Linked DNA regions of Homo sapiens. Each later gene encodes a partner of the first gene's protein in a complex. Each region holds a gene or a part of one and is shown in the gene's direction. Other genes may lie near its edges.

The links.
Region 2: the proteins of SORT1 (region 1) and GRN are in contact, whole or in part, in a crystal structure (PDB 8T8S), measured with the Homo sapiens proteins. Residues at the interface, in NP_002950.3 of Homo sapiens: Leu108, Gly110, Ser111, Val112, Ser113, Leu114, Ile174, Gly175, Pro176, Lys260, Tyr304, Ser305, Phe306, Gly307, Leu308, Phe314, Ala315, Ser316, Arg325, Ile327, Phe350, Tyr351, Ser352, Ile353, Leu354, Tyr395, Thr398, Gly399, Thr402, Phe404; in NP_002078.1 of Homo sapiens: Pro578, Arg579, Trp580, Asp581, Ala582, Pro583, Arg585, Arg590, Gln591, Leu592, Leu593.

What each region holds. Positions count from the first base shown.
Region 1 is NC_000001.11:109,310,567-109,318,504, reverse strand, and holds part of SORT1 (sortilin isoform 1 preproprotein), read left to right. Parts: intron 1-535; coding exon 536-652; intron 653-1,546; coding exon 1,547-1,655; intron 1,656-3,726; coding exon 3,727-3,833; intron 3,834-4,120; coding exon 4,121-4,244; intron 4,245-4,447; coding exon 4,448-4,462; 3' UTR 4,463-7,938.
Region 2 is NC_000017.11:44,340,329-44,348,301, forward strand, and holds the start of GRN (progranulin precursor), read left to right. Parts: upstream 1-4,973; 5' UTR 4,974-5,006; intron 5,007-7,973. UniProt on the Homo sapiens protein: Secreted protein that acts as a key regulator of lysosomal function and as a growth factor involved in inflammation, wound healing and cell proliferation. Regulates protein trafficking to lysosomes, and also the activity of lysosomal enzymes.

The sequences.
Region 1 (7,938 bases):
CCTACCCCCACCAGGCCTGACCCATAAGCTTCTTTTCCTTAATAAGGCCCTCTCTGGCGGGGCACGGTGGCTCACACCTGTAATCCCAGCACTTTTGGAGGCCGAGGTGGGCGTATCACAAGGTCAGGAGTTTGAGACCAGCCTGACCAACATGGTGAAACGCTCTCTCTACTAAAAATAAAAAATTAGCCAGGCATGGTGGCATGCACCTGTAATCCCAGCTACTCAGAAGGCTGAGGCAGGAGAGTCGCTTGAAGCCGGAGGCGGAGGTTGCAGTGAGCCAAGAACACGCCACTGCACTCCAGCCTAGGCGAGAGAGTGGGACTCCATCTCAAAAAAAAAAAAAAAAGGCCCTCTCCGTGTCTGTTTTCCTAAATCGACCTCCTTCAGAGGTGTCACAGGACTTCCTGAGCTACTTTCTAACAACCCAAGACTGGAATGTTAACCATCCACTACCCCACATAACCCTTCATTGCTAGTCACTTAACGGTCTTCCAGCTGCTTTGAAAGGTACTTTATTTGCTGACTCTTGCAGTGATTTTGGCTACTACCGTCCAGAAAATGACTCCAAGTGTGTGGAACAGCCAGAACTGAAGGGCCACGACCTGGAGTTTTGTCTGTACGGAAGAGAAGAACACCTAACAACAAATGGGTGAGGTGGCCTTTTCTCCCTTGTCACGATGGATGAGGTGTTCTTGTTCAGAGTGAAAGCTGCTTCTCTCCACACTGAGATCCAAGCCCTACTTTAGAGCACTATTTTTGGCGGGGTTGGGGAGGGGCAGGATATGAAGGCCTCCTTCAAGGGTCAACTACAGGAGGTGAGCCATGAGTGCTTGGTGTCAGAGGACTCAACCCCACCAACACCACGAGGCAGAGCAGGAGAACAAGCTCGGCCAGATCCTGCACCCCTGCCTCCCGCCCAACCACCCCCAGGAAGGGAGGAGAGGCGAGGGACCCACAGGCAGAATGACAGAAGCGTCCCATCCGCCATGAACGTCCATCGCTCGTCTGGCACAGTTTAGGCACAGCCAGGGAGAGCTCTGTCTGATAGGACTTTCTTTGGTGATGGAAGTGTTCTGTAATTTGCTGTGCCCAATATGATAGTCACTAGCCACACATAGCTGTGGACACTAGTGTAACCGAGGAACTGAAATTTTCGTTTTAATCAATTTTAAGTAGCCACCATATTGGACAGTGCTGCTCTAGACGGGCCTCATTACCTCGCTCCCCTGATAACTTCCCCTCTCCCATTTTGTACCACTTGTTAATGAGCTTTTTTGGGGTCAGATTTCTTTGGCACAGTCTCTTAGGTAGAAAGAACAGGCATGTTTCTGACAGCAGGGGACAGAGATGCTTAGTTTGCTTAAGGCCTGAAACTACACAAAATATCCCCCAAAACATCCCTGTGGACATTCCCCCCAGGCCTGAAACATGACGTAAGGATGGGAAGCTTTTCGGCAGCTTTTCAAATCTTGTTTCCAAGAAATAGGCAGGTACCCAGGAATACATCCTTATCTTCTGTTACCAAATCTTCTTTGCCTGGTAGGTACCGGAAAATTCCAGGGGACAAATGCCAGGGTGGGGTAAATCCAGTTCGAGAAGTAAAAGACTTGAAAAAGAAATGCACAAGCAACTTTTTGAGTCCGGAAAAACAGGTATGTTAAAATAGGTCTAGTTTTCAGGTACAAATGGGATTTTGTGTTCTGCTAAGAAAAATCAAAGTTAAAGCATCAAGAGTTTTGTTACTGATAAAAAGTGGTCAAACTACTTCTCTCAGGCTTCCCTTATACAGGAAGCTGTTAGCATGAAGGATGGGTCATGTAACCCAGTGATAAGCTCACCCTACTGAAAGCTCTTTTCTTATTGAGGGTTGGGGGATGATATTCTGTAAAGTTGTAAAATTCTTAAAATCATACAGTTGTGGAAATTTCTGAGGCTGAGAGTCATTTAGGAAAACAAAAAGGTTGTCTGTGGGCTGGGTACAGTGGCTCACACCTGTAATCCCAGCACTTTGGAAGTCCAAGGCAGGCAGATCACTGAGGTCAGGAGTTCAAGACCAGGCTGTCCAACATGGTGAAACCCTGTCTCTGCTAAAAATACAAAAATTAAAATTACAAAAATTAGCTGGGTGTGGTGGTTTACGCCTGTAGTCCCAGTTACTCGGGAGGCTGAGGTAGGAGAATCATGTGAACCTGGGAGGTGGAGGTTGCAGTGAGCCGAGATCGTGCTGCTACACTCCAACCTGGGCAACAGAGCAAGACTCCGTACCAAAAAAAAAAGGTTGTCTGTGAAGGGCCATGACCTGGAATTGTGCATGTGTGGAAGAGAAGAGCACTGGGCAATAGGTAGGGTGGATCTCTGACCAAGTCATGTTAAGTATGTTCAAAGTGAAAAATTGAGCTATGGTAATGGGCTGGTTTTGATTTAAATGAAGCAAGTTACCTGTCGGGCATGGTGGCTTACTCCTGTATAGTCCCAGCACTTTGGGAGGCTGAGGTGGGGAGATCAGTTGAGGCTATGAATTGGAGAGCAGCCTGGGCAACATGGAGAAACTCCATCTTTACAAAAAAAATACAAAAATTAGCCGGATGTGGTGGTGTGTGCCTGTAGTCCCAGCTACTCAGGAGGCTGAAGGGAGAGAATCACCTGAGCCTGGGAGGTCAAGGCTGCAGTGAGCCATGATCATATCACTGCACTCCAGCCTGGGTGACAGAGTGAGATCCTGTCTCAATTTAAAAAAAAAAAAAAAAAAAAAAGGTTATGAGGCTGCATCCAAATCTGTAGCACTGAACTACCTGTGGAACTGGAGATGTGTAAAGAGGAAACCTCTTGATAATGAAACACTAGACCAGCAGCATGACTTCAGATGCTCAACAGCAGGCCCGTTTCCCAATTCGTAATAGGAGAGGTCAAGCTGGATCACCTGCAGTCCCTCCTCTCTGCTGTTCTAAGGGATGAGGGACTGACAAGGGGTGGGATTAAGGAGATGATGGGAGAGGAGTGTGTGAGTGTGTGTATTGGTAAGGGGGCGAGTTCCTCCTTCTGTGCACCCTTGTCCTGGGCTCCTGGTGACTCTCCTCAGAGTGTTCGTGTGTGTGATTGCACAGGACTCCCACCCACAGGGACACAGCTTGTCCTAGAATCCAGCTCTGCCTCCTCTGGGATACATTGAAAACACACACTCCCTATTTCCCACCCAGAAGCAGGTAGGTCACATGCAAACAGTGATATGATAAGGCTTATTTATAATAATATATAAAAAATTAAGTAAACAAATAAATCTTGGTGTCATATAATGGCCTGCCTGGTTCTTCTGACACAGCTTCTTCCCAGATAATGGCCCTGTTCTAGAGTCATTCAGCCTACTGTTACAGTAGTCTCCCTTTCCTACTCCACCCTTAAGCCCCAAGACTTGTGAACAGTGGTAGTGTGAAGCAATCATACTTGATCTAGGCAGTTGCCCAGGCTTCCAGTGTAACTTTGACATTTAAACCACAGAATTTGAAGGTTCAAGGCAGTTGGAGCTAAGATGACTCTCTGCCAGCTATAATATTCTCCTGGTAACACTGAGATGGTTCATCTTGGGGGGTTGGAAAAGAGCCATCATTAAGCGCATCAGGACTGCAGATCATTCACAAAGAGATGAGGGGAATGAGTGGCTGCCTTGACCTCAGTCCTAGGATATGCATGCCTAAAACTTTTGTGTTTGTGTTTTAATTTCTCAAGAATTCCAAGTCAAATTCTGTTCCAATTATCCTGGCCATCGTGGGATTGATGCTGGTCACAGTCGTAGCAGGAGTGCTCATTGTGAAGAAATATGTCTGTGGGGGAAGGTAAGGAACACAGAAGTCAATCCAAGGTACTGAGTTCAAGCCAGAAGGCTGATCTAGGGCATATGGCTGAGTCTACTCTTGGCAAAAACTAGGTACTTGCAGTACTGTTCCTGAAAAATCAGGCCCAAATCTTCTCATGTCGTACATTTTTCATATGTCAACCATGGACTGTGCTTTCTGTGTCTGTGATGCGTTCCTGAGTGTATAAAACTGAGAAAGTCCACAGTCCTGTAAGAAGTGCACCCCTGCTGTGTACCACCGAGTGTTAAGGAGGTTTCTGTTCACAGGTTCCTGGTGCATCGATACTCTGTGCTGCAGCAGCATGCAGAGGCCAATGGTGTGGATGGTGTGGATGCTTTGGACACAGCCTCCCACACTAATAAAAGTGGTTATCATGATGACTCAGATGAGGTGAGGCTATTTCTTCTTGAATGGTAGTACCCCCCCCCCCAAAAAATACAAGAAAATAAAGTCTGTCTTCTATTCATGATCAAGATATGCCAGGGCCAAGGCGACTTAATGACCATAAGATTTGGCAAGCCCAGAAACTAGGTGATTGCTTTTGAAATAGGAGTGTTGTGGTCTGTCGGTAATATGGTGCATGTCTTTTTCAGGACCTCTTGGAATAGCTCTTCAGAGGAGCTGGACCCAGCATGGATGGTGGAACCACAGTACCTCTTACACTCCCTGTGGCTCCAACTTCAGGAAATAAATTTCCCATTGCGAGGGACCCAGCTCTGTTTCTGCTGCTTCCATCAAAGCCAAAAGGACCTACACTAAAGAAATGCAGGGTGGGGGTGGGGAACCCTGAGCACTTTTTTACAATTGGCTCTGAGAAAAAGGGAGACATTTTAAATTCTTTAACTTCTTATTTCTCGTCCTGTCTCTTTGCAAAGTATGGGCTTTTTTGTTTTTGTTTTTTAAGGGAAACGAAATGGAATTCGAAGGGACCTTTTCACTAACCCCACTTCTGTGTGTTCTGCATGGCGCCTGCCCCAGGGCATCTGCCAACTCCAGTATCAGCTCTCACAGTGTACTTGGTACCATCCCTGGGCTCTGCTGGCGAGACGAAACAGCTGTAGAGATGAAAACAGGCTGCAGAGGCTGGCACAGCCTGGCCGGCTTTTCTCCATCTGGGGACAGTCCTACTCCAAGAACACTGCACACCAGCTCCTCACACAGATCCCACTTACTCTTTTTTTTTTTTTCAGAGACCACAGACCACAGTGATTTTTCTTTTCCCTTGTTTAATTAGGCAATACCCTTGTTAATTGCCCTTTGGCAACTAACTTAACCATGTGCTTCCCACACAGTACATCAGGAAAACTTACAGGGCAATATTTTTAACTTGGGGCAGGAAGAAGGGAGCAGCAGAGAATTGACTAGATATAGCACCTATTAAAAGAGAACTCTTGCTTCTTCTGAGATTTTTCAAGCTGTGCTTTGTGTGTGTGCCAGTAGACTTACGCAAGGACAGGGTACAAACTTAGCTGGAAGTCTGCCCAGGCTGAATGATCTCTTCCCTAGAGTTGATTGTCGGGTACACAGTGTGAACCCCCGAAGACGGAACCTCACAGTCTTCCATGTTCCCTTCTTAACTGTCGTGTGGCTCGTTGCTAAATCATGACAATGGCTGCCTATCTGCTGCTTCTTAGGTTGCTGTTGTACATGGAACCAGGACTAGAGATTTTTTCAGATTTATAGACTTAAAAAATTAGAATTTTATTACCAGGCTTTCCTTCTCACCCCTTTTTTCTGACTTTGCCAAGTAATTTGTTGACACGAAAATTTTGGAGGAACCAATTGAAAACACACTTCCAGTCTAGATGATGCTTTGTGTGATACATTAAGTTCTTATTTTGGATTAAAAGAAGTTTTCCATTTGATACCTCTCTAAATTAAATAAATTATAGAATGTAGTTGGGTGGATTTTGGGGTGGCCATATAGTAATGGAAAGCTGCAATAATTAGTTTTAATACAGCTTGAATATTTGCTATATAGAAATATAGTATGGAAAGTTTTTGGTCTTAATGTAGCTACTGTGCGGGTCACAGTTTCTCCCAATGATTATGACTGGGACATTCTTTGGTAGATACCATTTGCTACTAGTTTATTTTGTGGCTAGAAAGTCAGTTTTGTGTGTTTTTTTTTTTTTTTATTTGAAGTGCCAAATTAACTTTAGTCAGAATGTGAGCAGATGGCTAAGTTCTCTCCTCCCCAGAATGGATTAACAGCTGCGTGGAAAGTGGGGGAGAGAGTGGATGGAGACTTTTAGAGATGTTAAAACTGCAGTAGAATGAAATGAGTCAGGGAGCTTCAGTTAGAAAATAAAGTTGAGGCAGTTTTTGTGAAGATAATATGGTTAGGGCTGGAGTGCACTAGTCTTTTTGCTTATTCATTTTGCATGGTTTTAAAATTAAAAATAATTCCGAAGATACACCAGCTCACAAATGAAAACGTCAGCCTCTGCCCCACCCTCCCTCCTGCCCAAAGTGAATTTGGTACTCAGAAAAGAACTGTTTATACCACTCACCTTTCTCCCAGCATGTACTCACTGTGGGCAGATGCACCAATACATGGTAATCCTCTTACTCATTTTAAGACGTAGGAAACTCAATATTCTTCTCTAACCATATACGATAGGGCTCTTCGCTTTTAATGATATCTGGGATTTCTGTGGAACTTGGCAAATTTTCAGAGCACCTTCACTCACATAATGTCATTTGAACCTCACAATGTTCTTGGGATGGAGTCAGTTGTTCAGGGTCCCCGTGTGTGTGATAAGCAGTGCTGGCTGGCTGTCTTCAGAACTCTTGGAAATCTTTACACATGCGAGTGCTAACCACTTTGAGCAAGGCTGCCTTCTTGTAGATGACTTGCTGTTCTTTATGACAGGGATCAGTGGCATTTGTTTCCTAGCAGTATTTAGCACCTTTTTGCCACCTTGGTGAACAGAAAATTGTATTTTCCTGTCTTTCATGGCTGAAAACAAAAGTAATGGGAATTTTAAATACGTTTGCAGAAACTGCCCCTCCCCTCATTGAGGGTCACTGCTCAAGAGTGCAGGAGTGGACTCTCCACTGATGGGTCTCCCTCCCCATCCTGGTTTCCACCCCGGGCTGGCTAGCTCTGTTGGTTTGAAGACTGACAGCCAGCCTGGCTCATTCTCATTATTGGCTAGTTAGCTTTCTTTATCAACCTGCTCACTCACAAATGTGTGCCCTCAGCCAGAGAGTAAGAAAGCCCAAATCTGTTACAGCTTCTAAAAAAATAGATTTCTAATTTGTCCTACTCATGTTAGGAGCATTATCTTTGAAGGTAAAACATAGTGTATCATTGTGTAAACTCCCAGGCTTGATGTAGCAGAAGAGATCATTTCTGGAGGCTTCAGCAATGGAATTTAGCATTATAAGAGAGATTGGACAAACCAGTCCAAAGTGGTCCGAGTTCTTAAATCCAGGTAGGGAACTCACTCTTCTTTCTTCTCTGGACCTAATTGGGCATTGGGCTTTAGTGAGACCACAGACCAGGCCCGTCTCTCCTGTAGGCTTTTAATTCAATGGCAACTCTATTTCAAAGAATAAAAGCCTTTGGAGAGTTGCGGCAGTTCTGGGGGCGGGCTCAGGAGAGTCCATAGATCAGCCGTAACTGGAACGTAGAATCTACGTCTGCCTCTGAATGGACTTCCCACCTCCTCTCTCTTGCTCTGATGCTTGCCTCTGGGCCTCTCCATGCCCAAGGTGGTCTTTCATCCTTGACAGGCTGGTAATGTGCTGGCCACCTCCAGCTCCTGCATCGAGTCTGTAAACCAGAGCTGGTTCTCATGGCCTTCGTCACGATACCAGGATACGGAGGGGAGCCCAGGGCCATCCATACCCACCCCAGGGTAACGGGGCTGGCCTGGCATTAGTCATTATTTAGTTTCCAGGCCAACCATCCAGATAGAGATTCCCTCTTTCCTTTGAGCAGTGCTCTCAAGAGCTCCGTGCCTGTCCACAATGACCTAGAGTGCATCCTGCTCATTGTCAGTGTAGCCCCTCGCCCCTATATTCATCCAGGATACTTGGAAGTGCTAAAATAGGAAGGGATTCGGCTTTCAACTTT
Region 2 (7,973 bases), on another chromosome or scaffold:
ACTGTGATGGTAGAACAATGTATCTACTTGGATGGTGCTCCTGGATTAGATTAACATTTAAATCAGTGAACTTTGGTTAAAGCAAATTGCTCTCCATTGTAGGGAGACCCCCTGAAACTATTGCTACGGAATAAAAGATGAAATGCTCCTGATTATTGTAAATACGAAATTGCATGCAGGATTGTGTAAAGACAATGCCAGGTTGGACTGCCAGTATAAGCCAACAGCTCGTGATGTGCTTCCCCCTGAAGAGAGCCTATGAACAGACGTGCAGTCAGGGAGGTTTCACATCACCAATATTCCTATCCCAGAAAAGCAGATGTTCATAGCCCTGGGAATGGAATGTGACCCTTGTGGAGGGCCTATAAATGGACGCATGAGCGGCACCTGTTCATATGGATAAGATAGGGCTATAAATGCCCTCATCTTGCCATGGCTCTTCTAGGCCTCTTTAAGGTTAAGGCATACTCCCTTCTGATAATTTCTGGTCTAACTGGTTATCTAGCTTCACGTCCTGTTTCTATGGATTGTTTGTAACCAGCTTTTGCTGCAACTCTTACTGCTGATTAATATCTTGCTAATCATAGGTTATGGAAAGACTGTGTTTCTGTTTTAAGGCTCTGTTAGAAATTACTGATGCACACACTATATTGTAAATTCTTATCTCTGTATACTGTACTTCTGCATACAGATGTTATGTTAAAGAATTACTTCATCCCCATGTGACCATCTCACCTCATAATCAAACGACCCTAAATCCCTCACTAACCTACCCTCGCCCTCACTAAACTTAATAATAAATGCTGGTATATCCAGTGCATTGGCAGCATCGCAGGACCAGAAGGCGGTGACCCCCTTGGACCCAGCTTTCACTATCTTGTGTGTGTCTATTATTTCCCGACCTGCCGATCCACCTGGGGACAAAGAGAGAGCCCCATTGCCTTGTGGGCTGCTGGCCAGATCCCGCGATACTCCATAATGTGGATGGACCTGAATAAAACAGAAAGACGGGCCTCGCCGAACTAGAGGGAATTCTCCTGCAGGCTACCCTCAGACTTAACCATCAGCTCTCCTGGGTCGCCAGCCCACCAGCTCACACTAAAGGCTTAGGATGGTTATGATAAGAAAGACAGATGATAACAGAAGTTAACCATGGATGAGGCTAAAGAGAAATTGAAACCCTCATACATCGCTGGTGGGAATGTAAAATAGTGCAGCTGCTTTGGAAAACAGGCTGGTAGTTACACAAAAGGCTAAACAGAATTATTATGTAATCCACTAATTCTACTCCTAGGTATATACCCAAGAGAAATGAAAACATGTCCACACAAAAACTTGTATGGGCCGGGCGTGGTGGCTCACTCCTGTAATCCCAGCCCTTTGGGAGGCTGAAGTGGGAGGATCCCTGGAGTTCAGGAGTTTGAGACTAGCTGACCAACATGGCAAGACCCTGTCTCTACAAAAACCACACAAAAATTAGCTGGACATGGTGATAAGCACCTGTAGTCCCAGCTACTTGGGAGGCGGAGGTGGGAGGATTACTTGAGCCCAGGAGGCAGAGGTTGCAGTGAGCAGAGATGACACCACTGCACTCCAACCTGGGTAACAGAGCAATACCCTGTCTCAAAAAAAAAAAAAAAAATGCTGGGGGGATGATGAAGATAGGCACAGTGGCTCAAGCCTGTAATCTGTAATCTCAGCATTTTGGGAGGCTGAGGCAGCAGGATCACTTGAGGCCAGGAGCTTGAGACCAGACTAGGCAACATATTAAGACAAAAAAATACAAAATATAGCTGGGAGTGGTGGCATGTGTCTGTATTCCCAGCTACTCAGGAGGCTGAGGTGGGAGGGTCTGAGGCTGCAGTACAAGGTGGCACCACTGTAATCCAGCTTGGGCGGCAGAGGAAGGCTCTGTCTCAAAAACAAAGAAACAAACAAAAATGGGCCACGCGTGGTGGCTCACGCCTGTAATCCCAGCAGTCTGGGAGATTGAGGTGGGTGGATCACTTGAGGTCAGGAGTTCGAGACCAGCCTGGTCAACATGGCGGAACCCTGTCTCTACTAAAATACAAAAATTAGCTGGGCATCATGGCACATGCTTGTAATCCCAGCTATCCGGGAGGCTGAGACAGGAGAATTGCTTGAACCCAGGAGGCAGAGGTTGCAGTGAGCCAAGATCGTGCCACTGCACTCCAGCTTGAGTGTTGGAGTGAGACTCTGTCTCAAACAAATGAAAAGAAACAAACAAAAAAGAAATGAGATACTGATACCTGCTATGTGATAAGCTTTGAAAACATTATGCTAAGTGAAAGAAGCCAGTTGCAGATCACATATTATAAAATTTCATTTATATGGAATATCCAAATCTATAGAGGTAGAAAGTAGATCAGTGGTTGCCTAGGGTTAGGGAGGGTGACTGCTAAAGGACATAAGGCTGCCTTCTGTGGTGATAAAAATGGTCTTAAACTGATTGTAATGATGCTGCATAACTCTCTTAAGACACTAAAAACCATTGAGTTGTACACTTTAATTTTTTTGTGTTGGCGGGGGTGGATGGAGTCTCGCTCTGTTGTCCAGGCTGGAATGCAGTGGCACGATCTCGGTTTACTGCAACCTCTGCATCCCGGGTTCAAGCGATTCTCCTGCCTCGGCCTCCTGAGTAGGGAATTACAGACCTCGTTATCGTGGCACCTTACCCTTCTGATGTTAAAAAAAAAAAAAAAAAGAGCGAGAGAGAGAGAGAGAAACATTTGTGAAGTAGGTTGTTGAGTCTCAGCACTATTGACCTTTTGGGCAGGATACTTCTTTGTTGTGGGGGATTGTTCTGTGTGTCGTGTGATGTTTAGTGGGATTGCTGGCCCTTACCTACCAGATGCCAGTGTCCCTCCACCCTGAGTTGTGACAACCCAGATTGTCTCCAGACACTCCTAAATGTCCCTGGCCGGCAAAATTGCCGCTGCTCAAGAATCACGGCTTTGACGATTAGACTTTGTGATATTTGTTTCAGTCTGTTTAGGTTTTTTTTCTTCTACCTGTATTTTTTTCTGGTTCTGGGTGGTTGTAATTAGTAGGTTATTGATCGATTCACCTAACATTTCATGAAAGTTTCATGTGTGTGTGTGTTTCAATAGAAGCATAAACTATACTCCCTAGTCTCAAGATACACAGGAAGGAAAATAAGCACAAATGTGTCACCAGGGCACAGACTAGTACTAGGTCCTCAGCAGGCCAGGTGTCTTATCCGCTGTCTGGGTCTGCTCTAGCTCCAGGCTTAGAACCCCTGCCACACGACTCCACAGCTCGGTTGGCACCCTTTCCCTCCTCCGACTTCTGCTGCCTCGAGCTTGGTTAGCCATCCCCCTGCCCCTGCCTCATCCTCAGCTCCAGTTCCTTGCTCAGGCTGCAGCAGTCTCCATCCCCTGTGCAGACACTGCCGTTCCTCCACGGCCCAGTATCAGGCTTTCCCTGGGCCTCTCCTCTCTCCTGGCCCATCTCCCATCATCCATCTCTGCCTGGCCCAGGCCCTTTGGCACCAAGCAGGCTGACTCTTGTCACTGGCTAATCTGTTCTGTGGTACATTTTCTCTCCTCACCCTCCCATATCAATTCCTCGAAGGCAGGGCCGATCTGGAGACTAGGAAGCCACTTCTCTTTCGACAGCCCCCACCACAGCCCAGCCCGTGCCAGGCACCCAGCAGCTCCTGAAGCCCACTGGCATTGAACATGGCATTCAATCCCTGCCAAGCCTGCCCTTCCCATCTGGTTTCCCAGGGCTCTTCCCAACACCTCCTCCTCCACCTGCCAGTTAAAATCTTCCCAGACTCAGCTCAAGGAGATGCTCCTAAGGTGGAATGAAATCTCTTCTTCCCCACCTGGAGACAATCTACTTCCTCTCCCTACACCTGGCAACTGGCGCACAACCTTGTATCTTAAATTAGATTCAGCCTGAGACTGTCTCCCACCAATCCCTGCTCCCTGTCCTGCTGAGCACCTTGAGGAAAGGGCTTTGGGGCTGTTTATCTTTGTCCTGGAAACCATCCTTCAACTCACTCTGGGGCCTGCCTAGCATGTCAACCGAGTTTGGAGAATAGGGCAGAATAGGGCAGGACAGGACAGGACAAGACAGGGCAGGATAGGATAGGAGCGAGCCAGCTCAGTAGCTCACATTTGTAATCCCAGCGCCTTGGGGGGCTGCGGTAGGAGAATCGCTTTGGGAGCAGGAGTTGCAGGCCGCAGTGAGCTATGATCAGCTTGGGCGACTGAGCGAGACCCTGTCTCTAAAACAAACACACAAGTCCGGGCGCGGTGGCTCATGCCTGTAATCTTAGCACTTTGGGAGGCCGAGGTGGGCGGATCACGAGGTCAAGAAATCGAGACCATCCTGGCCAACATGGTGAAACCCCGTCTCTACTAAAAATACAAAAATTAGCTGGGCGTGGTGGTGCGCGCCTGTAGTCCCAGCTACTCGGGAGGCTGAGGCAGGAGAATCGCTTGAACCCGGGAGGCAGAGGTTGCAGTGAGCCGAGATCGTGCCACTGCACTCCAGCCTGGCGACAGAGTGAGACTCCGTCTCAGAACAAACAAACAAAAGGATAGAAAGGCGAGCACAAATATTCCCAATTCATAACACTCCCTCGCACTGTCAATGCCCCAGACACGCGCTATCATCTCTAGCAAACTCCCCCAGGCGCCTGCAGGATGGGTTAAGGAAGGCGACGAGCACCAGCTGCCCTGCTGAGGCTGTCCCGACGTCACATGATTCTCCAATCACATGATCCCTAGAAATGGGGTGTGGGGCGAGAGGAAGCAGGGAGGAGAGTGATTTGAGTAGAAAAGAAACACAGCATTCCAGGCTGGCCCCACCTCTATATTGATAAGTAGCCAATGGGAGCGGGTAGCCCTGATCCCTGGCCAATGGAAACTGAGGTAGGCGGGTCATCGCGCTGGGGTCTGTAGTCTGAGCGCTACCCGGTTGCTGCTGCCCAAGGACCGCGGAGTCGGACGCAGGTAGGAGAGCGGCCGCGCAGACCTCTCGCCTGCTCCTGCCCAGGGGCCCGCCAGGGCCATGTGAGCTTGAGGTTCCCCTGGAGTCTCAGCCGGAGACAACAGAAGAACCGCTTACTGAAACTCCTTGGGGGTTCTGATACACTAGGGGGAGTTTTATGGGAAAGAGGAAGCAGTAATTGCAGTGACGCCCCGTTAGAAGGGGCTTTCTACCTCCCCAGCATTCCCCCAAAGCAGGGACCACACCATTCTTGACCCAGCTCCACCCCTGTCGGTAGGTGCTGGCTTCTTCCCCTCTCCTGGTGGTGGTGGGTGGTTCCCGCGGCGGCCTGGAGCCGGAGGGGCGCGCGACCCTGGGCTGGGAGCTCCGAGGGCCTGGGAACGAGACCTGAGACCTTGGCTTCTCGAAGGTAGTAGGGACTTGGGAGTGGTGACTGAACCTGGTCTGGCTCCTCCTTACTTCCTCTTGTTGCGGGTGGGACGAGCTAGCTTCCGCCTCTCCCAGCCACTTTTTCCTGCTCATTTGCAGCTAGGTTGGCTCCCCTTTTGGGAATTTCCTCTCCCCTTGGCACTCGGAGTTGGGGGGTGCCACCTAGTGGAAGATAACGGAGCTAGGGTCTTGAAGAGGCTGCTGTCCCCTCTGGCTGTTTTGGCGGTGTAGGGTGGCATGAGAGACTGCGACTCGCCTCCTCATCCCTGTTTCTGTATGCGAGTGCTTGTATTCAGTAGAAGCATACACTATACTCCCTCAATTTAGGGTAAACAGGAGGGGCCACATGCACAGGTAATTCACCAGGGAGCCGAACACTCCTGTGCAGACAGACTCCCCTTCCCAGCAAGCCATGGCAGCGGACAGCCTGCTGAGAACACCCAGGAAGCAGGCGGTGCCAGCTGCAGGTGCTTTGCCTGGGAGCTGTGGGGCTGAGGAGAGGGTCCACTGTCCAGGACCAGTGAACTTCATCCTTATCTGTCCAGGAGGTGGCCTCTTGGGGATGCTGAGTTAGGGGAGGGGCACTTGAGGAAAGCCAGGTGGAGCAGAGAGGATGTGAGTGACTGGGTGGGTGAGATTTCCTGCCCCTCCCCCCGCAGTGGTATCCACACCTAGACTCGTGGGGTAACTGAGGCACAGACAGAGAGCAACTTCTCAGGCCCTCACAGTTGGCAATTCTAGGATTAGGACCCAAGTGCGATTTTCAGGCAGTCCCTGTACCCTGTTTCTGTTGTACCTGTTGCACCATTCCCAGGCACTGCCCATCGTGCCACTAGTGATATGAACCCAGGTCCAATACGCTCTGGGGCCATCAAAGCCTGACGTCACCATGACCTGATGTGTGACGTGTTATAGGTGTCCCTTGGTATCTTCACGGAACTGGTTCCAGGACCCCAAAATCTGTGGGTGCTCAAGCCCCTGAGATAAAATGGTGTAATATTTGCATATAACCTATACATACTTTAAATCATTTCTAGATTACTTATACCTAATACAATGGAAATGACATGTCGGCTGGGCGTGGTGGCTCATGCCTGTAATCCCACCACTTTGGGAGGCCGTGGCAGGTGGATCACCTGAGGTCTGGAGTTTGAGACCAGCCTGACCAACATGGTGAAACCCCCATCTCTACTAAAAATACAAAAATTAGCCAGGTGTGGTAGCGCACACCTATAATCCCACCTACTTGGGAGGCTGAGGCAGGAGAATTGCTTGAACCTGGGAGGCGGAGTTCGCAGTAAGCTGAGATCGCGCCACTGTACTACAGCCTGGGTGACAGAGCAGGACTCCATCTCAAAAAAAAAAGAGAAAAAGAAAAAGAAATGCCATGTAAATAGTTGTGATCCTGAATTGTTTAGGGAATAATAAGAAAGAACTATCTGTAGATGTTCAGTATAGATGCACCCATCGTAAGCCTAACTACATTGTATAACTCAGCAACGATGTAACATTTTCAGGGGTTTTTTTGTTTTGTTTTTTGAGACAGAATCTCAGTCTCACTCTGTCACCCAGGCTGGAGTATGTTGGCGTGATCTCTGCTCACTGCAACCTCCACCTCCTGGGCTCAAGCGATTCTCCTGCCTCAGCCTCTTGAGTAGCTGGGATTGCAGGTGTGCGCTACCACGCATGGCTAATTTTTGTATTTTTAATAGAGATGGGGTTTTACCACGTTGGTCAGGCTGGTCTTGAACTCCTGACCTTGGGATCCGCCCACCTGGGCCTCCCAAAGTGCTGGGATTACAGGCGTTAGCCACCGCGCCCAATATATTTTGATCCCTGGTTGGATATGGAGGGCTGACTGTACTTAACATCTCTAAGCTTCAGTTTCCTCCTTTAAAATAAAGGTGTGGCTGGGTGTGGTGGTTCAAGCCTGTAATCCCAGCACTTAGGGAGGCTGAGGTGGGTGGATCAGCTGAGGTCAGGAGTTCAAGACCAGCCTGACCAATATGGTGAAACCCCCTCTCTGCTAAAAATACAAAAATTAGCCAGGCGTGGTGGCGAGCGCCTGTAGTCCCAGCTACTTGCTTGAACTTGGGAGGCAGAGGTTGCAGTGAGCTGAGATCGTGCCACTGAACTCGAGCATGGGCAACAGAGCAAGACTGTCTCAAAAAAAAAAAAAAAAAGGGGGTGAGCAGACGTGGTGGCACGCTCCCACAGTCCCAGCTACTTAGTAGGAGGCCAAGGTTGGAGGATTGCTTGATCCCAGGAGTCTGAGTCCAGCCTGGGCAACATGGCAATACCTCATCTCTAAAAATAAAATAAAAGTAAAGGTATTAATTACTACTTTGGATGGTTGTTGCAAAGAAATATATATAAAATAATGGAGAGTCTTGTAACTGGCTCCCAAGAGGCTCAACAGACATTACTGTTTTTGCTTCTTCATTATGAGTTACCTCTCTGGCCACCCCACTGAACTAGCTGGGCTAGCTGAGCCTGGGAGAAGAGTTGTTTAGGAAGTGAGAGGCTGCTCTCCACAGAGA